7 linked regions of the Homo sapiens genome follow. Changing the gene in region 1 together with any one later gene gives a genetic interaction. Each region holds a gene or a part of one and is shown in the gene's direction. Other genes may lie near its edges.

What was found.
Region 2: changes in SREBF2 (region 1) and CXCR2 together harm fitness less than expected from each alone (positive genetic interaction), as found in Homo sapiens cells (one large-scale study listed by BioGRID).
Region 3: changes in SREBF2 (region 1) and SLBP together harm fitness more than expected from each alone (negative genetic interaction), as found in Homo sapiens cells (one large-scale study listed by BioGRID).
Region 4: changes in SREBF2 (region 1) and FDFT1 together harm fitness less than expected from each alone (positive genetic interaction), as found in Homo sapiens cells (one large-scale study listed by BioGRID).
Region 5: changes in SREBF2 (region 1) and GPS2 together harm fitness more than expected from each alone (negative genetic interaction), as found in Homo sapiens cells (one large-scale study listed by BioGRID).
Region 6: changes in SREBF2 (region 1) and MTRF1 together harm fitness more than expected from each alone (negative genetic interaction), as found in Homo sapiens cells (one large-scale study listed by BioGRID).
Region 7: changes in SREBF2 (region 1) and FGF3 together harm fitness more than expected from each alone (negative genetic interaction), as found in Homo sapiens cells (one large-scale study listed by BioGRID).

The regions. Positions count from the first base shown.
Region 1 is NC_000022.11:41,867,605-41,871,104, forward strand, and holds part of SREBF2 (sterol regulatory element-binding protein 2), read left to right. Parts: intron 1-1,006; coding exon 1,007-1,188; intron 1,189-3,284; coding exon 3,285-3,431; intron 3,432-3,500.
Region 2 is NC_000002.12:218,132,528-218,136,027, forward strand, and holds part of CXCR2 (C-X-C chemokine receptor type 2), read left to right. Parts: intron 1-2,249; 5' UTR 2,250-2,274; coding exon 2,275-3,357; 3' UTR 3,358-3,500. UniProt on the Homo sapiens protein: Receptor for interleukin-8 which is a powerful neutrophil chemotactic factor. Binding of IL-8 to the receptor causes activation of neutrophils. This response is mediated via a G-protein that activates a phosphatidylinositol-calcium second messenger system.
Region 3 is NC_000004.12:1,692,231-1,695,319, reverse strand, and holds the end of SLBP (histone RNA hairpin-binding protein), read left to right. Parts: intron 1-479; coding exon 480-546; intron 547-1,606; coding exon 1,607-1,723; 3' UTR 1,724-2,589; downstream 2,590-3,089. UniProt on the Homo sapiens protein: RNA-binding protein involved in the histone pre-mRNA processing.
Region 4 is NC_000008.11:11,809,241-11,812,740, forward strand, and holds part of FDFT1 (squalene synthase), read left to right. Parts: exon of another isoform or gene 1-250; intron 251-426; coding exon 427-610; intron 611-3,500. UniProt on the Homo sapiens protein: Catalyzes the condensation of 2 farnesyl pyrophosphate (FPP) moieties to form squalene. Proceeds in two distinct steps.
Region 5 is NC_000017.11:7,312,561-7,316,762, reverse strand, and holds GPS2 (G protein pathway suppressor 2), read left to right. Parts: upstream 1-1,402; 5' UTR 1,403-1,432; intron 1,433-1,643; 5' UTR 1,644-1,710; coding exon 1,711-1,804; intron 1,805-2,165; coding exon 2,166-2,275; intron 2,276-2,359; coding exon 2,360-2,472; intron 2,473-2,603; coding exon 2,604-2,683; intron 2,684-2,774; coding exon 2,775-2,857; intron 2,858-3,041; coding exon 3,042-3,195; intron 3,196-3,293; coding exon 3,294-3,383; intron 3,384-3,471; coding exon 3,472-3,551; intron 3,552-3,638; coding exon 3,639-3,734; intron 3,735-3,923; coding exon 3,924-4,007; 3' UTR 4,008-4,102; downstream 4,103-4,202. Other genes in the region: NEURL4 (neuralized-like protein 4), read left to right, coding at 436-640. UniProt on the Homo sapiens protein: Key regulator of inflammation, lipid metabolism and mitochondrion homeostasis that acts by inhibiting the activity of the ubiquitin-conjugating enzyme UBE2N/Ubc13, thereby inhibiting 'Lys-63'-linked ubiquitination.
Region 6 is NC_000013.11:41,250,077-41,253,576, reverse strand, and holds part of MTRF1 (peptide chain release factor 1, mitochondrial), read left to right. Parts: intron 1-546; coding exon 547-628; intron 629-824; coding exon 825-932; intron 933-3,500. UniProt on the Homo sapiens protein: Mitochondrial peptide chain release factor that directs the termination of translation in response to the peptide chain non-canonical stop codons AGG and AGA.
Region 7 is NC_000011.10:69,816,617-69,820,699, reverse strand, and holds the start of FGF3 (fibroblast growth factor 3 precursor), read left to right. Parts: upstream 1-1,283; 5' UTR 1,284-1,766; coding exon 1,767-1,986; exon of another isoform or gene 1,987-1,992; intron 1,993-4,083. UniProt on the Homo sapiens protein: Plays an important role in the regulation of embryonic development, cell proliferation, and cell differentiation. Required for normal ear development.

The DNA.
Region 1 (3,500 bases):
GACCATCCTGGCTAACTCAGTGAAACCCCATCTCTACTAAAAAATAGAAAAAATTAGCCGGGCATGGTGGCGGGCGCCTGTAGTCCCAGCTACTCGGGAGGCTGAGGCAGGAGAATGGCGTGAACCCGGGAGGCAGAGCTTGCAGTGAGCAGAGATCGTGCCACTGCACTCCAGCCTAGGCAACAGAGCGAGACTCCCATCTTAAAAAGAAAAAAAAAAATCCAGCAAGCATAGTAGACACAGGGCCATTCTGATAACTAGTGGTGGAGACTTGAATAAGGCTTGAAATTGGCTAGGCGGCAGCCAGATCTCAGCTGCCACAGTTGAGAACTATTCATTCAGCAAACATCTGAGCATCCACTATGGTGATGAATATGACTTTTAATATAGGTGCAGCAGCTTCAAGTAGCAAGCCTCATGCTGGGCCCTTAGTATGTGTTGAGGGAATGGATGACTGAAAGGGGCCTGTTCTTTCTGTGATGTGCTGCATCCCAGTGCCTTTTCATCATATTTCCCTCTGACTCTGTGGGGAGCCCAGGGTAAGATTAGTATTGCTTTGAATTTCAAAGAATCTTATAGTTCTTCAATGGAGTTCAAGAATTGGGACAGGTGGGGGAATGTAAAGGCAAAAAGCTGAGACAGTCCTCCCAAAGTGCACTTGCCGTCCAGAAAGGATGGAAGAAAATGAAGCCCCAGGGAGTTGTTGATTCTCAACATCTGTTAACTCCCTTGCTGGGTGCAGTCATTTGCTGATTAGCTTCCCTTTCCCCCACCCTGGCACCCAGAGTAATAAAACAATTTGTACTCGTTCCCTCAGAAATTGATGCAGCCCTTATGGGATGTTCTTGTTGTCTAAGCCACCTTGTAAATGGCTGTGCACATCATCTTCAGCAGTAGGTGGGGAGTTGGAATCATTATGAGATACTCCATCCTCAGGTTTCTGCTGCAGCTGCAGTGACAGAATGCATTCCTCATCTCTGTGCCTTCTTTCTCCTCTTCTCCCAAGTCCTTCAGCCTCAAGTCCAAAGCCTGGTGACATCCTCCCAGGTACAGCCGGTCACCATTCAGCAGCAGGTGCAGACAGTACAGGCCCAGCGGGTGCTGACACAAACGGCCAATGGCACGCTGCAGACCCTTGCCCCGGCTACGGTGCAGACAGTTGCTGCGCCACAGGTGCAGCAGGTCCCGGTAAGTGGCTGGAAAGGATTCAGGGAGGCACTGGTTGGGGCTGTTAACTGGTCCTTGGTTGAAGATGTGGTCTACATACTAAGAAGGACCAACCAGAGTGTACACAAAGCAGCTTGTAGGGCGCCAGGATGCACCTGTGAGCAGCGTATAGTGACCTGGCTGAGTCCATATCTGTAGATAGACACTGGCACTCAGGAAAGGCTGGTGCAGTCACTTACGTACACATGTAATGGGCATAAAACTGGAAAGAAATGTGCTAAATTGGTATTTCCCAGATAATTTTCTTTTTCATAGTTTTGTGTTGTGTTTTTTTGTTGTTGTTGTTGTTTTGAGACGGAGTCTCATTCTGTTGCCCAAGCTGGAGTGGAGTGGTGTGGTCTCAGCTCACTATAACCTCCGCCTCCCGGGTTCAAGCAGTTCTGCTGCTTCAGCCTCCCGAGTAGCTGGGACTACAGGCATGTGCCACCACACCCGGCTAATTTTTATATTTTTAGTAGAGACGGGATGTTGGCCAGGCTGGCTTGAACTTCTGACCTTGTGATCCACCCGCCTCGGCCTCCCAAAGTGCTGGGATTACAGACGTGAGCCACTGCCCTTGGCTTTCATAGTTTTCTGTTCTCCATATTTTCTGCTGTGGATCCTGAACATATATTGGGTTGGGGGGAGGGGGGGCATGTATTATTAATCTTTTTTTTAATTTTTTTTTTTTGGAGACAGTTTTGCTCTTGTTGCCCAGGTTGGAGTGCAGTGGCGTGATCTTGGCTCCCTGCAACCCCCGCCTACCAGGTTCAAGCGATTCTCCTGCCTCAGCCTCCCAAGTAGCTGGGATTACAAGCACCTGCCACTGCACCTGGCTAGTTTTTTGTATTTTTAGTAGAGATGGGGTTTCTCCAGGTTGGCCAGGCTGGTTTTGAACTCCTGGCCTCAAACAGTGCATCGATCTCGGCCTCCCAAAGTGCTGAGACTACAGGTGGGAGCCACTGTGCCCAGCTGGGGGACGTGTATTATTTTTATAATCACAAAAAACGTCTTTATGTTATATATCATCGTGGACTATATCCTCTTTTTTCTTTTTTTTTTTTTGAGAGTCTTGCTCTGTCGCCCAGGCTGGAGTGCAGTGGCACGATCTCGGCTCACTGTGCAACCTCAGCCTCCTGGGTTCAAGCAATTCTCCTGCCTCGGCCTCCCGAGTAGCTGGGATTCCAGGCACGCGCCATCACGCCCAGCTAATTTTTGTATTTTTAGTAGAGACAGGGTTTCACCATGTTGGTTAGGCTGGTCTCAAACTCCTGACCTCATGATCCACCTGCCTTGGTCTCCCAAAGTGCTGGGATTACAAGCATGAGCCACCACATCTGGCCTATATTTTCTTACTAACAATTTATCTTAAAAAAATCAGGTTTATTATTTTTGCTTCTCAGCCATGTGTCTGGCTTTCCTGAGTCTTTTCTCTCCTCTCTGCCATCCACCCTACCCATCTCTGCTCTGCTCCTGCTGGGCCACTGGCACCACCCTCTTGAAAGTCTTTCAACCTAAAAACCCATGACCTGGCTGAGCACCATGGCTCACGCCTGTAATCTCAGCACTTTGGGAGGCTGAGGCAGGTGGATTTCTTGAACCCAAAAGTTCAGGACCAGCCTGGGCAACATGGTGAAACCCTGTCTCTACAAAAAAATACAAACAATTAGCCAGGCATGGTGGCACACACCTGTAGTCCCAGCTACTCAGGAGGCTGAGGCAGCAGGATCACTTGAGCCCGGGAGGTCAAGGCTGCAGTGAGCTGAGATTGCACCACTGCACTCCAGCCTGGGCAACAGAGAGCAACCCTGTCTCAGCAAAAAAAAAAAAAAAAAAAAAAAGCCAGGACCCTCATTAGCTAGCCCCTCTTTCTCCACCTGAACCCGGTATTCAGGCTGTACAAAATAGCCGGCTTTTGAAATGGCCTCTATGAAATTTCCTGTTCATTTTTTTATTCTCAATTTCATAAAAATTATATCATTTCTCATTCTTTCTTGGAAGGTCTATGCAGTAAGAAAGGAATGCATAACAGAAGGATAATGCTATCATCCTTTTACTTTTCTTCCTTCTTCATCCAGGTCCTGGTCCAGCCTCAGATCATCAAGACAGATTCCCTTGTTTTGACCACACTGAAGACAGATGGCAGCCCTGTTATGGCTGCGGTCCAGAACCCGGCCCTCACCGCCCTCACCACCCCTATCCAGACGGCTGCCCTTCAAGTACCAGTAAGAGCTGCCTTCTCCCCCACCCTCCTCCCTCCCCCTTTATTCCTGGAGGTGTTAGTCTTCAGAGAT
Region 2 (3,500 bases), on another chromosome or scaffold:
ACATGGTAGAGTATACGATGCTATAGCCTACTACACACATGGGCTATATGGTAGAGTACTGCTCCTAGGCTACAAACCTACTCAGCATGTTACTGTACTAAATACTGTAGGTAATTATAACACAATGGTATTCTTATATATAAACATAGGAAAAGAACACTAAAAATACAGTATTATAATCTTATGGGACCACTGTGGTATTTGTGATGTGTCATTGACCAAAAAGTCTTTCAGTTGCTCATGACTGTTCCTCAATTTGTCTGTCCGTTCATCAGTTGATGGATATTTGGTTTGTTTCCACTTTTTGGCCTTAATGATGAATGCTACTATGAACATTAGCTTTCAATTCTCTTGGGTGTATACCTAGGTTGGGGTTTGCTGGTTCATGTGGTAACTCTATGTTTAACTTTTTTGAGCAACTGCTAAGCTGTTTTCCAAAGCAGCTGCACCATCTTACATTCCCACCTGCAATGTGGGAGAGTTCTGACTTTTCCACTTCCTCACCCACATTGTTCTTGGGCATCTTTTTCTGAGTGTGCCCAGCCTGGTGAGTGTGAAGTGGGTTCTGGGACCTTTAACTTCCTGGTTTTTCTCTCACACTGGGTTCCATTTTGGGGGTAGATTACGGACTTGGACATGGTTGGTGGTAGGGTGGTCATCCCTTACTCTAAGGCAATGGCCGGAGGGTGATCTATTTTGTGGTTCAGAAAGAAGCTAATTAGGGAGCTGGATTGCTTTAGTTGACTGCTTTGAGAAACTGGGATTTTTTTTTTTTTTTTTTTTTTTTTTTGAGGCAGAGTCTCGCTCTGTTGCCCAGGCTGGAGTGCAGTGATGTGATTTCGGCTCACTGCAACCTCCACCTCCTGGGTTCAAGCAATTCTTGTGCCTCAGCCTCCCAAGTAGCTGGGATTACAGGTGCACGTCACCATACCTGGCTAATTTTTGTATTATTAGTAGAGACAGTGTTTCACCATGTTAGCCAGGCTGCTCTCAAACTCCTGACCTCAAGTGATCTGCCACCTCAGCCTCCCAAAGTGCTGGGATTACAGGTGTGAGCCACCACTGGGATAATATTTTTGAATAACTGCAGCCCACCCTCCACACCCAGGCTTCCCCAGAGCAGGATCTGTGCTGTCCCTGTGGCAAGGGCAGAGCCCCAGGAGCTAGACTAAATCTGAGAGGAACAGGGGAGTCAAGGCTAGATGGAGGCACACACATGCAGGACAGGAAGGGTCTCCAGCAGGGCTGGAAAGCCACCAAGCAAGGGTAGTGCAAACCCTGTCTTCTCTGCTTCCTGCTGCCCCTCTCTTATTGGGTAGCAGACTGGCTGTGTCTGCTTATCCCGCATGGTGGCACATGGCTGCCCAGAGCTCCCCAAATAACCTGTTACGTTTCCACCCACAGGGAGAATCAGGCAGCCCGCTTGCTTATTGTTTTTAATATACTTTTCCAAACTACACAGACATTCCCAAAGCGGGTCTCCTTCTACCCAAAAGAGAAACGCTGGGCCTTACTAATTAACTGAAGACTCTGCTAGCTCGAGCCTTCCAAAACTCCATGCCACAATTGTTCAAACCATTTTCCAGAATACATCTTTTAAAATAACTTTTAGAAAATTGAACAAAGGGATTCATGTCTCAGCTTTATAGTCAAACCATGATCTTTTCTGAGGGTATAGCCCATTTGGAGTTCCTGCTTAATCCCCTGATTAAAAACTGAATGGGGCTGAGTGCAGTGGCTCATGCCTATATTCCCAGCACTTTGGGAGACAGAGGCAGGAGAATTACTTAAGGTCAGGAGTTTAAGACCATCCTGAGCAACATAACAAGTCCCCATCTCTAAGACAAAAAAAAAAGAACTGAGTGACATCTCACATCTCACATTTCTGAACATTAAACCCAGCCTTGATAGCCAAAGATGCTCGCCACTGAAGGATCCAGGTAGTATTGAGGGTTCTGTGGGGATTATCCAAAGAGAACTTTCTACAAAGTTTTAGGTGATGGCGATGCTAAAAGAAATGCTAAGAATTTCTCTCTTATATTAAAGAGAACTATGGTCCTCTCATAAAATGTACCATTTATCACCAAATTTATCTCATAACCTAAGAGCTACCACTTACAAATTTGAAGGGAAAAATTACTACATTGTAATACTCAAGCCAACACAAAGAATCCTATCCCAGTTTCTTGAGTGGATGGGCAAGAATATGGGGAATTTATTATGCAGTAACCTTCATCTCTCTTCTATAGGTCAGGATTTAAGTTTACCTCAAAAATGGAAGATTTTAACATGGAGAGTGACAGCTTTGAAGATTTCTGGAAAGGTGAAGATCTTAGTAATTACAGTTACAGCTCTACCCTGCCCCCTTTTCTACTAGATGCCGCCCCATGTGAACCAGAATCCCTGGAAATCAACAAGTATTTTGTGGTCATTATCTATGCCCTGGTATTCCTGCTGAGCCTGCTGGGAAACTCCCTCGTGATGCTGGTCATCTTATACAGCAGGGTCGGCCGCTCCGTCACTGATGTCTACCTGCTGAACCTAGCCTTGGCCGACCTACTCTTTGCCCTGACCTTGCCCATCTGGGCCGCCTCCAAGGTGAATGGCTGGATTTTTGGCACATTCCTGTGCAAGGTGGTCTCACTCCTGAAGGAAGTCAACTTCTATAGTGGCATCCTGCTACTGGCCTGCATCAGTGTGGACCGTTACCTGGCCATTGTCCATGCCACACGCACACTGACCCAGAAGCGCTACTTGGTCAAATTCATATGTCTCAGCATCTGGGGTCTGTCCTTGCTCCTGGCCCTGCCTGTCTTACTTTTCCGAAGGACCGTCTACTCATCCAATGTTAGCCCAGCCTGCTATGAGGACATGGGCAACAATACAGCAAACTGGCGGATGCTGTTACGGATCCTGCCCCAGTCCTTTGGCTTCATCGTGCCACTGCTGATCATGCTGTTCTGCTACGGATTCACCCTGCGTACGCTGTTTAAGGCCCACATGGGGCAGAAGCACCGGGCCATGCGGGTCATCTTTGCTGTCGTCCTCATCTTCCTGCTCTGCTGGCTGCCCTACAACCTGGTCCTGCTGGCAGACACCCTCATGAGGACCCAGGTGATCCAGGAGACCTGTGAGCGCCGCAATCACATCGACCGGGCTCTGGATGCCACCGAGATTCTGGGCATCCTTCACAGCTGCCTCAACCCCCTCATCTACGCCTTCATTGGCCAGAAGTTTCGCCATGGACTCCTCAAGATTCTAGCTATACATGGCTTGATCAGCAAGGACTCCCTGCCCAAAGACAGCAGGCCTTCCTTTGTTGGCTCTTCTTCAGGGCACACTTCCACTACTCTCTAAGACCTCCTGCCTAAGTGCAGCCCCGTGGGGTTCCTCCCTTCTCTTCACAGTCACATTCCAAGCCTCATGTCCACTGGTTCTTCTTGGTCTCAGTGTCAATGCAGCCCCCATTGTGGTCACAGGAAGTAGAGGAGGCCACGTTC
Region 3 (3,089 bases), on another chromosome or scaffold:
TTTCTCCTCTGTGCTGGGAAATTTTTTAGAGACTGGCATGTTTGAAACGATTGTAAGTGGCTTTACCAGTTTGTCCTGACAGATGTCATTTGGGTTTTTTCCCCCAGTGTGACACCATTGTCCCATTCTCTGAGTAGAAACTTGGAAAAATTAGTGATAATGCATAGTATGTTCATCACAGTGCTCATTTCTCCCCCTCAAAAATTGGGCTTATGAGTGTTTCTGTTTCCAAGGATGCTTGTGTGGTGAGCCCAGCAGATCTTTTTGTTGCTTCTCATTGCCATCCGCTTTCTCTTTGCTGGATTGATTGGGCTGGGATTAAGTCTGTCAAATAGTCACTGAAAGCTGACCCCTCAGGGAGCCTCGGGCACACTGTCAGTGTTGTGGCTGTACCATATGGATGGGGTTTGTCTGTAGCGCCCCGTCTCCTGGCTTTGTTAAGTTAGTGCCTGACGCACATGTTGGATCTTGTTTAACAGACACCCTGTAGACCTTGAATCTGCAGAAAGCAGCTCCGAGCCCCAGACCAGCTCTCAGGATGACTTTGTAAGTACTTTGGATAAGTCTTTCAGCTTGGGGGTTGCAGGTGAATTGTTAATAACACATGCTGCCTTATAAACTGAAGTTTGGACTGGGCACGGTGGCTCACGCCTGTAATCCCAGCACCTTGGGAGGCCAAGGCAGGCGGATCACCTGAAGTCAGGAATTCAAGACTAGCCTGGCCAACATGGTGAAACCCTGTTTCTACAAAAATACAAATAATAGCCAGGTATGATGGTGGGTGCCTGTAGTCCGTGCTACTCAGGAGGCTGAGGTGGGAGAATAGCTTGAACCCAGGAGGTGGAGGTTGCAGTGAGCTGAGATGGCGCCATTGCACTCCAGCCTGGGCAACAGAGCAAGACTCTGTCTCAAAAAAAAAAAAAGAAAGAAAACCATGTGCTGCGCGTGGTGGCTCACGCCTGTGATCCCAGCACTTTGGGAGGCTGAGGCAGGCAGATCACCTGAAGTCAGGAGTTCAAGACCAGCCTGCCCAACATAGTGAAACCCAGTCTCTACTAAAAATACAAAAACTAGCTGGGTGTGGTCATGCAGGCATGTAATCCCAGCTACTCAGGAGGCTGAGGCAGGAGAATCACTTGAACCCGGGAGGCAGAGGTGGCAATGAGCCGAAATTGTACCACTGCCCTCCACCCTGTGTGACAGAGTGAGACTCTGTCTCAAGAGAAAAGAAAACCGTTTTTAAATGTATCAGTTTAAATACTGTCTCCTGTCCTGAGACAGCCACTATTTGTGGTTTTGTCTAGGCTTTTACAATTCTTTCTGTGCTTATAAACTATGTACATGGCCAGGCACAGTGACTAGTGACTCCTTCCTGTAATCCCAGCACAATGGGATGTGTGCACATCTAAACGTCAGTGTCTTGTAAATGGTACATGTGGTTTCTCTTTGCAGTGTTATTATTAAAATCTGTCTCAGTTGCACGTGAAGTGTACACCTTGCTGTGCATTACATCACATGATTTACCACATAAGGAGTGGGGTGTAGGAAGGGGCCCCTGTTTTCAGGGTGAGATGAATGTCAACCGAGCCATGCTTCTGTTTTCCAGGATGTGTACTCTGGCACACCCACCAAGGTGAGACACATGGACAGTCAAGTGGAGGATGAGTTTGATTTGGAAGCTTGTTTAACTGAACCCTTGAGAGACTTCTCAGCCATGAGCTAACTGCCCCCTGGCGGCCAGGAAGAGAAACAGCTCCTCCCCGACTAGGTGGAAGGCTGGCCAGGCACCAAGCATGTGTGTGCACTTGTACCTGGTGGTTTCTCTGTTAGCAGTCCATTAGCTCATGCTGAATTATTTTTGCCTTACTTTCTTAAGAAACATTAATTTTATGTATAGTGAGTATATTTTGCATGTTTTAAATTGTAAATGGAGCTAAGTCCAAGAAAGTACTTGAAGCTCTCTTCCAGCGAGCTTAATTGCGTAATCCCTGTTGTCCTCCAGGGTAAGCTGACACGTCTACATAACTGGTTTTCCACAGGCATCTTCAGTTATTGCTTGTCAGGTGGACTGTTTTGGATTTAACCATGTAATCCATGGGACCAATTGAGAGTCAGCTACTTTTATAGGCATCAAAGTATTCTCAGACACCTTTAATATCTTTATGGAAACTTAATTTTTGGCCTTTTATCAATATGTCATAACAGCATTCTGAAGTCAGACATTGTTAAATTGAGCTATTAAACTAATGAGTTTTATGTAAGTTATATGGTCTTAATTTGGTACTTGTAAATAGCACTAGTTAGACTCTTTAGAATACTCCAAGAGTTAGGGCAGCAGAGTGGAGCGATTTAGAAAGAACATTTTAAAACAATCAGTTAATTTACCATGTAAAATTGCTGTAAATGATAATGTGTACAGATTTTCTGTTCAAATATTCAATTGTAAACTTCTTGTTAAGACTGTTACGTTTCTATTGCTTTTGTATGGGATATTGCAAAAATAAAAAGGAAAGAACCCTCTTTCACTGACTGGGGCTGTTGCCAGGTGGGCCAGCTGCCGTGAGAGCTGACATGTTTGGAGGGTCAGAATTGTGTCTGCCTTTCTTGTGTCTGAAGCAAGTGGCACTCAGTGAGTGGCGCTGGGTAAAGGGCCTTCTTTATTTTTTTAATTTTATTTTTTGAGAGTTTCGCTCTTGTTGCCCAGGCTGGAGTGCAATGGTGCAATCATGGCCCACTACAACCTCTGTCTCCCGGGTTCAAGCGATTCTTCTGCCTCAGCCTCCCAAGTAGCTGAAATTACAGGTATGTGCCACCACACGCAGCTAATTTTGTATTTTTAGTAGAGACAGGATTTCTCCATGCTGGTCAGGCTGGTCTCGATCTCCCGACCTCAAGTGATCTGCCTGCCTCGGCCTCCCAACGTGCTGGGATTACAGGTTTGAGCCACTGCGTGTGGCCGGGGGCCTTCTTTAATAGGTGTCACATGTCACATTTGGTCTGATGCTTATTCATCAGCACTGGCATGACAGCCTTCCCTGTCTCTTGGGAGAGACCCTGCAGCAGGATAATCATCAGTCTGAGGGTGCCCT
Region 4 (3,500 bases), on another chromosome or scaffold:
TGAAGCTGCCTCTGTGCACATTACACCCATGAACTTAGACCAGTTGCCTTTATGTATGATCGTATTTATACTGAGAAGTTACTGTGTTTTTTGACTTTCTTTTCTATTTGCTACATATTAGTTCGGTCTAAACGTTTGGTCTTCTGGTCTCCATAGTTCTACATTGGTTAAATGCAACTCACTTCTGGGAGTAGTGGTGACATTCAACTAGTAGGCTTTTTAATAAACTACAGAAGTTCATTACTCTCATGTAAGGAAGGAAAACTAATGTAACTTTCGTTAAGTATGAAAAGCGTTGGATATCCTTATAGTTCTTTAGAGTTAAGGGTGAGATGGGTTTAGAAAGTGGCCAGGCACAAGTTATTTTAAAATAAAAAATCTTTGGCTGTTTGTTCCAATATATTAATAGTTTTCCCTTTTTTACAGCAACGCAGTGTGCATATTTTATCTGGTTCTCCGAGCTCTGGACACACTGGAAGATGACATGACCATCAGTGTGGAAAAGAAGGTCCCGCTGTTACACAACTTTCACTCTTTCCTTTACCAACCAGACTGGCGGTTCATGGAGAGCAAGGAGAAGGATCGCCAGGTGCTGGAGGACTTCCCAACGGTGAGTGGGGTTACGCATCTTGTCTACGGACTGTTGTGTTCATAATTGCTAACGTGGTTGTCCGGTAGCCTCCATACATGTGGAGAAAGGTTAAATAAGCATTCTGAGGGCAGCATAATGTGAGGGTTAAAAACTCCGGTAGCCAAGACTCTGAAGCCAGGCTGCCTGGGTTGGAATCTCAAATCTCCCACTTACTAAACTGTTGGTTACTTACAAAGACTCTCTGTGCCTCAGTTTCTTCATCTGTAAAATAGGGGTAATAATAACACCTACCTCATGGTATTCTGAGGATTCAAAGAATTAACGTAGGTAATGCTCTTAGAATGTTAGCTACTGCTGTTATTATCAGTATTGGAAGTCCAGTGTTTCTTCCTGTGGGAAGACGCAGTCAAATTTTAGTGTTGTGAAAGATTCTCAGGCTAGCTCACAAAAGCCTGCCGACTGTATGATGCAGCCTACCTGTAACACTGCTGGCCTCTTGACTACCCGGAGCCTGGTAGCATGGGACTGCTGCTCACGATGGGCAGCAGCCTGGCATGGGGGCGGTGTCTGTTGGCAGCTAGGGCGAGCCTCTGCCACTTCACCTGTGATCCTGGGCAAGTTCCTTATCTGCTTTGTGTCTCCGTCTCCTCGTTTGTAAAGTTAGAGCTGAGAGGATTAATTTCGCACATATAAAGTACTTAGTGCCTGGTACAGGGTAAGTATTCTGTAAGTATTAGCTATTTGGTCTATTTTGTTGGAGTAAAGTGGGTTATAGTTAAAATCCTAAGATTTTTAAAGTCCCTCAAGTTCATGTGGACATCTGCCTAGGTCCTACTATCCTAGAATTCGCATGTCTTATCACACAAATAACTGATTCTTCCATATCTTATAAATAAAGGTTTGATTTAGCAAAGTCACATGTTGTGTAATAGCTCGAAGAAGCCCTTTTTGTCCACAGTTGCCAGAGCTTTTGGAGAACAGTCCTTATGTTATTGAAACAAACCTAATCTGTAGCTGAGTTGGGAGGGAGCTAAGTGGACAGAGAGTCCTCCACCCAAACAAAAGAATCTTTGATTCTTGGGCATAATGGGAGCAATATTTAAAAAAAAAAAAAAAAAAAAAAAAAGGAATGTTTGGGGAAGACTCTTGCGGTGCAAAGGCTGTTTCAGATTGCTGAGATCAGACCTTAAGTACCAAAGCCCAAATATAGTACAACATAATACAAATGAGAAGAAAATAGCTGAAGAATAATTCGAGTTTATACAGTACAATTCAAGAGAAGAAAGAAAATTTATGACGACTAGCTGGGTGAGAATTAGAACTGTAACCCTGGGAAGGTCCTGGTGATTTGACTCTCACAGGACACCTGATGACCAGAGGATGGGTTTCCTTTGATGGGAAATCTGTGGCGATTCATTGATGGGCCTCTGAATTCTGCTGAAGCAGAGGAAGTAGTAATACCCCATTTATAATGGAAGTGCATTCTCACTTAAAAACAACTAATATTATTCTAGCTGGACCTAGCCTCTAGAAACAGCCAAATTACATTTGACTTGAGTGGATTCATAATAATTAAAAAATTTCTGGGGCATGGGATAAATGTGTTAGGTATTGCTAAGTCAAGGCAGCCCTATCCCCTCAGCAGAAGTGAGGGAATATGAAAGTGTGTGAATGCTAACATAATTTTGGGGAATATCGCCGTCAGATTTCCAGATGATATTCCAACATGTTTGTGAAACTTCAGTGTCTTCCTGTGTTCATACAGTGTTCCAGTGGAAAAATAATGCTTAGTTCTGGAAGGTTTCAGATGTGAACACTGAACTCATCGTTTTCTTTTTTGGGTAGTAGAGTTAGAGATTCCATCCTCTTGAAAGCACAGTTGCCCCGGGAAGAGTAAAAGGGAGCAGAAGGCGTAAGCCAGGCACGGCTGTTTTCACTGTTGTTCACCTTTTGTATCCTTACGAATATGAAGATGTACTAAGTTGTGTGTTTTGCGTGCATATATAATTTTAAGCTACTTGAGTTGTAGGTCCCTCCAGTCTGTGATTCAGTTTGAGATGGGACTGTATGGGAATTAACAGTGCCTTGTCTTCTTAAGGAGTGATTTGTGTATGTGCTGATATAGCTCAGTATGTCTTTGAAACCAGTTGTCTGGGGCTAGGCCTGCAATCAGCTTTTGGCTAAGAGGTCCCAGGATGGAACAAGTAGTGTGAAAGAGGACTGATACCTTGGCCTCACACACAGTACTGCTCTTAGACTGGGGCAAGTGAAACTCCTCACTTCAGAGTGCCCCATTCTAGGCCCCCTCACTCCCAAAGGGGTGAGGGATCACTGGGGCCATGGGAATGTGCTTGTTCAGCTCTCGTGGGCTCTCCTTCTGTACCACGTTCTGGACATCTGGAGTTCCTTGCCCCAAATCCCTGAGCCCACGTCTGCGTCCGCACAGTCTATTTCCTAAGGTCAGTCCATCTCCTCCAGGTGGGAACGTGCCACCATTGACTGTGCCCTTGGGCCTGAGTGATGGCCAAGGGCTGTGTTGGGGAGTGTTGTGGATGGATCCTGGCACCGAGGGCTGGGATATCCTCTCAAATGAATGTGAGGTGCCTCCCAGTGCTGGAGAGAGCGGGATTCAGGAAGCAGTGGAAGGGAAGAGCCTGGGATATGGGGATCAGCTGTCTGTGCCCTGCTGCATTCTGGAATAAAACTCTGAGGGACTAAGAATTCTAAATTCAAACCTGAATCAACCAGGTTGTTACAAAGATAAGTTTGTCAGTGCAGGAGGATACAATATATTTTACTTAAGTTACTAGCTCGATTGATCATTTTTAAATTTTTAGCTACATATAGTATGTGGGCCTCCATTTGTCCTCTTATCCCAGGCCTTGCAGAATTTAGGAATAAGCCTCAA
Region 5 (4,202 bases), on another chromosome or scaffold:
TTTAGTAGAGACGGGGTTTCGCCATGTTGGCCAGGATGGTCTCGATCTCCTGACCTCGTGATCCGCCCACCTCGGCCTCCCAAAGGGCTGGGACAGGCGTGAGCCACCGCGCCCCGCCAGTATTTAGTATTTTTAAAGGTAATAAGTAAGGACTATGGAAACAGAGAAAGAATGGGGCGGAGACAGCAGTGCGGTTGGTGTGGACATCCTAAGAAGGTGGGAGAGATTCGAGCAAAGGCTTGAAGAAGGAAGTGAAGGGTGTAGCTGAGCAGGCTTTGGGAGGAAGAGCATTTCAGGTAGAACAGCTAGAGCGAAGTTCCCATAAGGTGGGAGTATTTCCTAGGTACAGCAAGGCTTGTGTGGTTGGAACAGACTTTGCAAGGGGGAGGTGATGGGGCGAGAGGCTTCACTCCCTTATTTTTTCTTGTCTGACAGATTCCGGGACCCCAAATCCCAGCGGACGCACCAGGCTCAGGTGGCGTTCCAGGTGTGTGTGCGCCCTGGCTCCTACACCCCGGGACCCCCTTCCGCTGCCCTTGGAGAACCTCCTGACCCTCACTTCAGTCCAGCCGAACTTGAGTGGGTCACTAAGGAGAAGGGGGCCACACTCCTCTGTGCCCTGCTGGTACGGGTGGAATGAGGGGTGAGACACCACTACTACAAGCACAGTCGGGCCGCGGGCCCATGGACTCTGAGTGGCGACTGCCTCCACCTCATTCCCGTGACTCGTGGCATGCGCAGGTGCTGGAGCTTGGCAGCCGCGCAGGAGCATGTAGGCAGGCTCTCAGATGTAGGTGGCAAGTGGCACAGCTCCATGTCCGGAGGCCCAGCACTCCGTCTGATGGGAGGAGTCGTGGGAGCCCAGCTCCAGGCCCTGGTACCCCTCTTCATGCACTGATTTGGGGAACATGACTCCCTTTTACTCCCCTACCCCACATCACTTAATTTATTTCCGTTTTTGTTTCTGGTTACTGTGAATCCCAGAGGAGTCTCTCCCTGTGCCCACATGAAGCTGCTTTTTCCGGGGCCACCGGGCGGGAGTGGGGAAGGGTGGGCGCACGGAAGATGGGGGCCTCTGTACAGTTGTTACTGACTCTGATTTCTAAGGAGCCAATAAACACCGTCTCAGAGCCTCCGCCTCGGCCTCTCTCTCGCGCGCCCCTCTCCGGAGCCCGCGTCCCCTGGGGTGCCACCAGGTGGGCCCGCGAAATTAAAGAGAGCTGAGGATGCCAAGGCCAGTCTGCAGCCGTCGTCGCTCACGTTCCCGGCGACGGGGTTTGTACGCCGCGGGCACCCGTCGCAGCGCGCTTCCGCCTTCTTTCACCTGTGAGGTCGGCCGCCGCCGTGACTCCGGAAGGACTCGGCCGGGCCGCCGGATGTGACGCAGGGGCCAGGGCGCGTCGGAGCCGCTGAGAAAGCGCAGAGAAGGCGGGTAGGAAGGGCAGTCGTCCGCGCTGGCTGGGCAGGGAGCGGCAGCAGCGAGCCGGGGACCCCGGCGCCGCCCGCGCGCGGTGGGACTGGGGCTGCGGTCCCGGCCGGGTGGCGGGCTCCTGGGACACGTGACCGGGGCGGCGAGCGGGCCGGGCGGACGGGCTTCCGCCTGGGCCGGGCGCGGCCCCCTCTGAGCGCCCGCCTCCCCGCAGGCCCCGTCTGAGGTCTGGCAGTCAGAGACAGCCGGGCGCCCACGGCCCGAGCGCCCACGGCAGCACCATGCCCGCACTCCTGGAGCGCCCCAAGCTTTCCAACGCCATGGCCAGGGCGCTGCACCGGCACATTATGATGGAGCGGGAGCGCAAGCGGCAGGGTGAGCCGGGGCCATAGCAGGGGGACGCACGGCCCAGAATGGCTCCTGTACCTCAAGGCTGGCCTCAACCCACCGGCCAACCAGCGCGCCCGCTGCCGAGCGCAGAGGAGGGAAGGAATAGCCCCGTTGTGGTGGGATTTAAGCGTCCTGTTCCACGCTCCAGAACCCTTGAGATGGGAAGGACCTTGGAGAGCACCTGATAAAGCCTTTCCGTTCCCTATTGCCGCGATGGGGAGCTTGTCCCCTCGAGGCAAAGAGCATACAGGCGTGTTGGGATGACTGGGTTTTGCTGGTCTTCAATCTGTAACGTTGGAATTGTTTTCACTACCCTGCCTCTTCTTCATTCTGCCTGATTCTCCAGAGGAAGAAGAGGTGGATAAGATGATGGAACAGAAGATGAAGGAAGAACAGGAGAGAAGGAAGAAAAAGGAGATGGAAGAGAGAATGTCATTAGAGGAGACCAAGGAACAAGTAAGCAGTCCCTTGAACTTTCCCAGCTTTGATTTCTTCGTTTGACTCTCCCTGCCTTCATCTTCTTTTCCCACCCCATCCCAGATTCTGAAGTTGGAGGAGAAGCTTTTGGCTCTACAGGAAGAGAAGCACCAGCTTTTCCTGCAGCTCAAGAAAGTTTTACATGAGGAAGAAAAACGGAGGCGAAAGGAACAGAGGTGGGATCAGAGTGCTAAAAACTGAAATGGGGGCCAAGTGGAACTGGGATCAGGTAGTAAAAGAACCAGTGTTTAATGGCAAAAGAGAAGGCATCTGTCCTTGACTTTGACCTGTCTTCCTTTCACTCCAGTGACCTGACCACCCTAACATCAGCTGCATACCAGCAGAGCCTGACTGTTCACACAGGAACTCATCTCCTCAGCATGCAGGGTGAGGACTAAAGAAACCACCAGATGGAACCGGCCTTCTTGGAGGTCACAGCCTCCCATTTCAGCATCATGAAGCCCTTCTCCCTTTCTAGGGAGCCCTGGAGGACACAATCGCCCAGGCACCCTCATGGCAGCTGACAGAGCCAAACAAATGTTTGGACCCCAAGTGCTTACGGTGAGAGTAGGATTGGATGCCTAGCCCCTAGTACTTCCATCCATGCATCCTTGCCACCAGTATTCAAGTCACAAACATATCAAGCACTTAAGTTTAGGGGGAAACGGGGCATACAGATACACACAAGTCACTGGGTTTCAGCTTTCAAGGAGTTTGTAGGCGAGTTCTCATTCTCCTTCCTTAGACCCGGCACTACGTGGGCTCAGCAGCTGCTTTTGCAGGGACACCAGAGCATGGACAATTCCAAGGCAGTCCTGGTGGTGCCTATGGGACTGCTCAGCCCCCACCTCACTATGGGCCCACACAGCCAGCTTATAGTCCTAGTCAGCAGCTCAGAGGTGAGTAATAGGAGGGATGGGGCTTGGCCTTCCTCAAGGTCAAAGGAGGAATGCCATTCAGTAAAAGATTTTAATGGCTCTGTCTTTTCCTTTCTCAGCTCCTTCGGCATTCCCTGCAGTGCAGTACCTATCTCAGCCACAGCCACAGCCCTATGCTGTGCATGGCCACTTTCAGCCCACTCAGACAGGTGATAACATCCCATGCAGGAGCTCTAGCTCTCAGGTCCTCCCCTCCCTGTTTCATTCTCATCTCACATGCCCCTCTTCCCCACCTAGGTTTCCTCCAGCCTGGTGGTGCCCTGTCCTTGCAAAAGCAGATGGAACATGCTAACCAGCAGACTGGCTTCTCCGACTCAGTGAGTATGGCACCTTGGGAGGTCAGGGTTAGGGATATGTTAAGGGGAGCTTCAGTATGCCTCAGGCCCTGACTCTGTTCTCTGCAGTCCTCTCTGCGCCCCATGCACCCCCAGGCTCTGCATCCAGCCCCTGGACTCCTTGCTTCCCCCCAGCTCCCTGTGCAGATGCAGCCAGCAGGAAAGGTAAGAATGGTAATAGAATTTACCTGTCAGAATCCCTACACTAGGGATCCGGAAAAGCAGGATTAGGTAGGACAGGTGGCCCACATCATCTGGTTTTTCCTTCCTCTTTGGGGGTGGTTATCAGTAGGGTATTAAGTGGAAGGGAGAGTATGCCCAGTGACAAAGCCCTCTTTTCATCACCACCACCAGTCGGGCTTTGCAGCTACCAGCCAACCTGGCCCTCGGCTCCCCTTCATCCAACACAGCCAGAACCCGCGATTCTACCACAAGTGACCATCAGATTATATCTTCAACACCACACCCCCCACCCCATCGTGGGTGAGGGTATCCCCTGTGTGTCCCAGGCCAATAAAATCTACCTGCCACTGCCCCTGGCTGCTGCTGTTTGTGTTGCCTCCCACCCAACTGTCTGGAATAGGTCAAGGTTGCTTGGAGGGTGGGGGGATGGCTGGCAGGTCCACAGCAAGT
Region 6 (3,500 bases), on another chromosome or scaffold:
ATTAGGAAGCCCTTTTTCTTTCTGGTCACAGCTGAGAAACTCATTTTGAGCCTTATCTTGGGAGCCCTCAACATAGTCTTTAATTAGAGCGTCTCTGCTGAGAAGGCACAGCATGGCTGGTGTCTGCTGTCAGTTATAGCAGAAGATAATATGAAATCATTTCTCAAAGTGAAGACTTTCAAAGCCTTGCTTCATTCATTAGATGAAAGAAGCTACTGTTCAGAACTAATTATAAGCGCCAAAATCTGAAGAAAATTGAATGGAACACCCTGGACTTTGATCTGAACTTCTGCATTCTAGAAAATTAAGATAATCTGATAACAGTGCAGAAAATATACTGACAAGTAACTCCATTGTTAACATGAATTGATCACCTATTTTAGGTCTAATTAGTTCTACTTATTATAGCATTTTTGGAATACCCTGTTTGGGATACTATATGATTTTGCCAATTATTGATTTTTTTCAATGTTTTTCGGGCCTTTATTTAATTCAGTAATAGTGTACCGGGGAAAATATACACACAAATGCTGATTTTTATTCCAGCTTTTCCAGAGCCTTGTGCCAAAGGAGAAATATGACAAAAATGATGTTATTTTAGAGGTGACAGCTGGAAGGACTACTGGAGGTCAGTAAACTTACTTTATTATTTAAATGATCTAAAAAGTCCTTGAATTTTACCTTATTTGATAACACTAACTTTAAAAGTCCATTAAATGTATTTAAATTTGGAAATAGTTATTCTTTATTTCCTAAAGGACTTAGTCTTAAGGGTGGCTTTCCGAAATTTGTCCTGACTAAATATTTTTCGTATTTTGTTTTAGGTGACATCTGCCAACAATTTACCCGAGAAATATTTGACATGTACCAGAATTATTCGTGCTATAAACACTGGCAATTTGAACTTCTGAATTATACACCAGCAGATTATGGTAGGCATATTGAGGAATTTGCCTGTAGGAGATACTGAAAATTATTTTACCTCTGATCTTGATTAGAACCATATTGTCCCATTTTTTTTTGAAACTTTTGGTGTATATCTACTAAACACTGTGGCATAGGCTCATCAATCACAGTGGCTTACTATTATAGCAGAGTTGTTAGCTAGGAGAAGACAGTAGAAAGGAGGGAAGCATTTGCTTAGGGAGAAATATGTGAATTAGAGAAAATTCCCCTGAGGAACTTAGATACGTATCTTGCCTCAAAATCATTTTTCTCTATTATTGAAAGCAAAGGTATATTAAGGTTTTTACTTTAAATAACTTTATAAAATAATATAAGTATTACTAATTAGACTAAGTGGCTAATGTGTTTGATTTTTATGAGAATGCGGAAAAAGTTAATCATTTGTCTTTATTTTCAAGAAACTTCTCTTTTGGCTGATAAAAATTTATAATGGCTGGGCACTATGGTTCACGCCTGTAATCCCAGCACTCTGGGAGGCCAAGATGGGTGGATCACCTGAGGTCAGGAGTTTGAGACCAGCCTGGCCAACATGGCAAAACCCTGACTGTACTAAAAATACAAAAATTAACTGGGCATGGTGGCACGTGCCTGTAGTCCCAAATACTCGAGAGGCTGAGGCAGGAGAATCGCTTGAACCCGGGATGGGGAGGTTGCAGTGAGCCAAGATCACACCAGTACACTCCAGCCTGGGCAACAAAGTGAGACTGTCTCAAAAAAAAAAAATGATACAACATAGACAAACAGTGCAGTTCTTTACCTTTAAATACTCAAGTATATTGATTGAAAACATGATAATAATTCTCTCATTTGTCTCATTCTTTTAATCCATCTGAAAGTTTTCCTCTGCTTGGTTACACAGTGATACATTGTAGTAGACAGAGGAGTCATCAGTAATAAACCACAAACTATCAAAGTGGGGAGAGAGGATTCATGTAAGTTGAGCAGTAAAGGGAAATAAGAACCAGCCTACAGCATAAGGAAGTTGTACCTGGTACAGATTTCAGATACAACCAGTGGTCAGGAAAGGGGATTATCCATGAGAGCAGAGAGAAGAAACAACCTGAGCAGCAGCATGCTGGTGGGAGAGGTCTTGGTGTGTGGGGAAGGGAGTGGTGGGGAGGCCAGTTTACCCATAGCTTGTCAGGGAAGTAATCGCTGAAGTAGGTTTGAGTGGATAGATTTTGAACAGCTTTGATTGATGGGCAATAGGAAGCTGTTGAAAATTGCATTAATAAGAATATGATTTGATAAGATATATATTTTAAGGAGATTATTTTGACAATAGTGATGGATGGATGGATGGATGGATGGAAAGGCTAGATTTAGTGCAGACTGCAAAGAGGTTATTAGAGTAATCCAGATATGACTAAGAGTTAGAATGGGGAGTAGAATTATCTGTCAGAGACCTGCAAAGGATGAATAGGCATAATTTGCTAAGTAACTAGATGTGAGAGGGGCTGTTGTTTATCCAGTATGTCTTGTGTGCACAACTTCACACCCTTGTGAAATAGATATTACTAATCTCATTTTACAGATGAGGATCTAGGCTCAGAGAGTAAGTAACTAATCCAAGACCACACAATAAGTAATGGCAATCCTGGGATTACATTTTAGTCTGTTTGATCCAGAGCTGCACTATATCCCATTATTCTATTCTGACACAAAGGAGATGAGCCACAGGGAGTCTAATCTTTCTAGCTGAGAAGACTGTGATACTCATTCATGCCATTGAATGGAATAGAAGTTGGAAGGCAGAAACCATTTGGAAAGAATAATGATGAATGGTTTTTGAATCATTAAGTTTGAGGTTATAGTGAGCATCCACTTAGAAATAGTCAGTAAATAGGCTGGGCACAGTGGCTCACGCCTATAATCCCAGCACTTCGGGAGACAGTTCGAGACCAGCCTGACCAACATGGTAAAACCCCGTCTGTACTAACAATACAAAAATTAGCTGGGTGTGGTGGTGCACACCTGTAATCTCAGCTACTCGGGAGGCTGAGGCACGAGAATCATTTGAACCCAGGAGGCACGGGTTGCAGTGAGTCGAGATCACACCACTGCACTCAGCCTGGGCGATAGAGTAAGACTCAGTCTCAAAAAAAAAAAAAAATTTGGAGTAAATATTGAAATTGAGTAACCAGATCTTTGGTGAGACAACAGAACTCAGGCAAGCTATTTGATACCTGTCAGCTCAGAGATAATGTCTGATACTGAGAGAATAAGTGAGGGAGAGTCTATAGAGAGAGAGCATTCAGGGCAACAAGCTTTGGAGAATGGCCATGTTTAGAAGGATAGACCAGTTAGCAAAATAAAAAGAGGATTCAAGATAATCAGAAAAAGGATGAGGACAGTAAAATATTATGGAAGCAAAAGAGGAGAGAGTTTCAAGGAGAATGTAAGAAGAAACAGCAGCATTATGAAAAGGAGAGTAGTAGAAAATATCCTGAGTGAACTCTGATAGGTGTATTTCGAATGAGACTTTCAAGAATAAAAGGGAGATAACCTCAATAACAGGAAGAGAGATTCTGTTC
Region 7 (4,083 bases), on another chromosome or scaffold:
CTTGGGGGCGCCCTCCTTCAGGATGGCCACCTGGACCCTGTGCACGCTGGAGTGGGCTCACAGAGGACACACTGCCCTGTGTGTATTGGGCCATGGGAGCTGGACACGTCCCAGGGGTGTGTGCTCACTGCCACAGCTCATGGTGCCCTGCACACTTGCCTGACCCCAAACCCTGATGCAGATGGCAGGCTGGGGAATGTCAGCCCACCCAACTCACCCCAGAGCCCCTGGTCAACTTGGAGCCAAAGCTGTGGCCTAGACCCCTGGACTCCACAGCGTGCCCTCCTCTGGGGCAGGGTTGAGAGAAGCAAATCCCCTGTGCTGGCCCCTGCTTCCTGCTGGCCCCAGGACCCTGGGGGACAGAGGACCAGGAAGCAAGAGAAATGGGTGGGGACATGGCTTTTCCCGATACTTTTTGAAGCCCCTCTTCACTGGGCCCCCTGAGATACACCTTGACCCCCACACAGTCCAGGGGACCACCTGGGCATCTGCACTGATTCAGATCCTCCAGGCCAGGACTCCCCCACACCCATTCCCAGCTTCTACCGGGTTCCTCTTGTCATCACCCACCCGCTGTGGCTACCAGACTCCCTGTGCTTTTCTCTGGGTGTTCTCCGCGGCTCTGTCTTCTTTCCATCTCCCCTGCCTCCTCTTTTTGGCGATCTCTGTCATTCACATTTTCCATGTCTTTCCCGTCCTTTCCTCCTCCGTTTCTGTCTGTCTCTATCTGCATCTCTTTCTCTCTAGGGCTCTCTGTCGGCGCCCACTTCTCTGGCTCTCGCGTCCCTCCTCCCGCCTCCCCAGGCCCCTCTCTGGACCGTCACTGGGACGGGATCCTCCGAGGCCTGCCAGACGAGAGCTAACCCCACCACTCCGGGTGCCCAGTTGGTGTGCGCAAAAGGAGATAGCATCTCCAGACCCGGCCTGCCCCGCGCCTTGCAAGGCTGAGGACAGCGCCACTGCTCCTGCAGGAAGCGCCGGGCGCAGACACAAACCCGGAGCTCCCCACGCGTGCCCGCGCCCCGGAGCCTCCCTGCCGCCGCCCTCCGCGGTCCCCTTCATTATGCGCCGCCTTTAATGGGCGTTTGTCAGCTCGACTTCCCCGCAAGTTGTTTTCACGGACATCAGTCATCGGCGGCGGCCCCATTGTGCAGGGGGATTGATGGGGAGCGGGAGGGGGTGACAGGGCCTGGGGCGGCCTCCTCAAGGCCTCGGTCTATAATTTTCGGAGGCATAATTGGTCTGGGGGAGGGGGCGGGGGAGGGGCGGGTAGGGGACCTTTCAGAGCCAGGAGGGCTTTCGGGGGCGTGGGGCGCGCTGCGGAGCGGAGCCGCGGCTCGACGGCGGTGCGCTGGCGGCGAGTGTATGCAGACGGCGCCCGGCCCGAACCCCGAGCCCCGCGGGGCTCCCCACCCGCCGGCCTCCCGCCCCTCCCGCGCCTCCGCCTGGGGACCACGTCGGCCTTTTGTTGGCGAACCGTCCTTTCTTTCAGCGCTTTGCGCAGCAACGGAAATTTCATTGCTCCTGGGTGGAAATTAAAGGGACTCGCGTTCCCTCTCTCCCTCTCCCTCTCCCACTCTCCCTCTCTTTCTCTCTCTCGCCCACCCTTCCCCCTTCTTCCCCCACCTTTCCCGCGAAGCCGGAGTCAGCATCTCCAGGCGCGGGATCCCGCTCCGAGCACCTCGCAGCTGTCCGGCTGCCGCCCCTTCCATGGGCGCCGCGCTCGCCTGCAGCCGCCGCCGCCGCGGGGCGGGCGCGATGCCACGATGGGCCTAATCTGGCTGCTACTGCTCAGCCTGCTGGAGCCCGGCTGGCCCGCAGCGGGCCCTGGGGCGCGGTTGCGGCGCGATGCGGGCGGCCGTGGCGGCGTCTACGAGCACCTTGGCGGGGCGCCCCGGCGCCGCAAGCTCTACTGCGCCACGAAGTACCACCTCCAGCTGCACCCGAGCGGCCGCGTCAACGGCAGCCTGGAGAACAGCGCCTACAGTGAGTGCCGGACGCTGCGGGGCCCCGGGGGAAGCGGCGCCGGGAGGGGTCGGGCCCGGGAGAAGGCGCGCTGCGGGGCCCCGCGGGGGAGGCGGCGCCGGGGAGGGGTCTGGCCCGGGAGAAGGCATGGTGCGCCCGGGGTGTCCGGGAAAAGACCGTCTGCCTCCCGCTGCCAGAAGGGGAATGCCAGGGTGCCCTCCTCAACCTACACGTCCGGGAGAAGAGCGCGCGCTGGGGTTCGAGCAGAACTCGGGGGCATGGGCGTTCACGTCCGAAGAGGGCGCCGGCGGCTGTCAGAGTCCGTCCCCGGTCCGGCCCGCTGGTCTGAGGGGACGCGAGCTAGGCGACCCCGGGGCTCCAGGCTCTGCTGCTTTGGGCAGCTCTGACAAGTTTAAGCCCTTTGAATGTGTCGGAGAAAAGGAGCCGGACAAGGCATTTATCATCCTCTTTATTATTTTGACGACTTCTCCTCCTCCTGCCGACCCCTGGACGCCCCGCCGTCCCCTCCGCCCTCCCCGCTCGCGGCTGCCCAGGTGGCCGCCCCCGCTGCTGCCTCTGCGCGGAGGACTCTTGCCCTGCGGAGCTCGGTTCCCTGGCCGCGGCCGCCACCGACAGTTATTCCCCGCGCTGGAATCTGCACCTCCCCCGCCTCCGCCCTGGCCGCACAGCGACAGGAGGGTGGAGGCCCTCGCCGTCGGGACGTGCGGATCACGAGCGCGGAACGGTGTCCGCCCGGGCCTGGGGGTGCAGACACACACACTCCGGCCCCCGCACGCAGGACCCGCGGCCCGGGCTGCGCTCACCGCGGGAGTCTGCCGGACTACACGGTTGGGCTCCTCTGGTCACAGGGACCTGAGGCCCGCGCCGAGCCCTTTGAGGAGCAGGATAGCGGAGCTCAGGGCCCGGGAGGACCGCGTGGGGAGCGTGGGAGGGCAGTCAAGACCACAGCTGTCCTCGGGTGCTCCGCGCGGCGCTCGGCTCCGGCCCCGGGCGCAGGAAGCGGTTCCGCCGCTTGAAGGTGGCGGCGGCGGCCTCAGCAAACCGCGGCTTCCTCCAGGAAAGCCGCAGCCCTGAGAGGGCGTCCTGGGGACATGCGCCTCCGGAGCCGCACGGTGGGCACCAGCTGTCACCAGGGGGTCCGAGTGCGCGGAATTCGTCTCACTAAGACACTCCGGTTCTCTCCAAAGCCAGGCTCCCCCTCGGAGTCGCACAGCATCCAAACTTCTTGGTGTAGGCTGCTCACGGGGAGGGGAGGGCGCGCGCCCGCAGCCGCCCCTGTCCTGCGTCGAGACTCGTGCTTCGCTGGTCCCCGGTCAGGCACCGCCGATGCCGCCCAGCCTGCGCACTGGGAAGGCGGGAGGCTCGCAGCCTGCACCACAGCACCCCTGGGCTGGAGCAAAAGCCCGGTGGTGACCGCGTCTGTGCTCGGACCGCGTGCCAGGAGGGCGCTCCTGAGAGGCATGCCTTGGAGAGGGTGCAGGCAGTCGCCCCAATCCCCTCGCAGCCTCTATTGGGAGACAATGACCCCAACCCGTCCTTTGATGTAGTCCCCCGCCCCCAGCCCCCACCACAGCACTCGTGTATCCAGAAGGAAAGGCGGGAGGGGAGATTTAAACTTTCTTATCCCTGGGGAGTGGGTGAGACCCGTCCAGCTTCCCTCTGCGGGCTCCAGGGTCTAAACTGGCTTCCTGCCCTTCCAGGTCCCCCGGCGAGTACAATGATCTCCCGCCAGGTCTATTGCCAGCATGATCTGGGTGGCAGGCACCCTGGCTGTGTTATTGCCAGTGGTTTATATTATCAGCCTGGCTCATCAGGGCCCAGCTTTCCCGCTGGCAGGCACAGGCATTGGGGACCGTGCAGTCCCAGAGCTCAGACTCCCATGGCTGCCGCCAGGGCTTGATTTCCCGCTCAAGCACATGTGCAGGGGCCTGACAGTCACCCAGCCATAGTGGTCCCCACTTGCTTGTCTGTCGGATGATGATGGCAGCTGGCAAGGTGTTGTGAGGCTCGAATGAAAGCCAGGGTGCAGGCAGCGTCAGCAGGTGGGAATGTTAATTTCATTGTTACCCTCCCAAGTTTGAATGAAGAGAAGCCTTC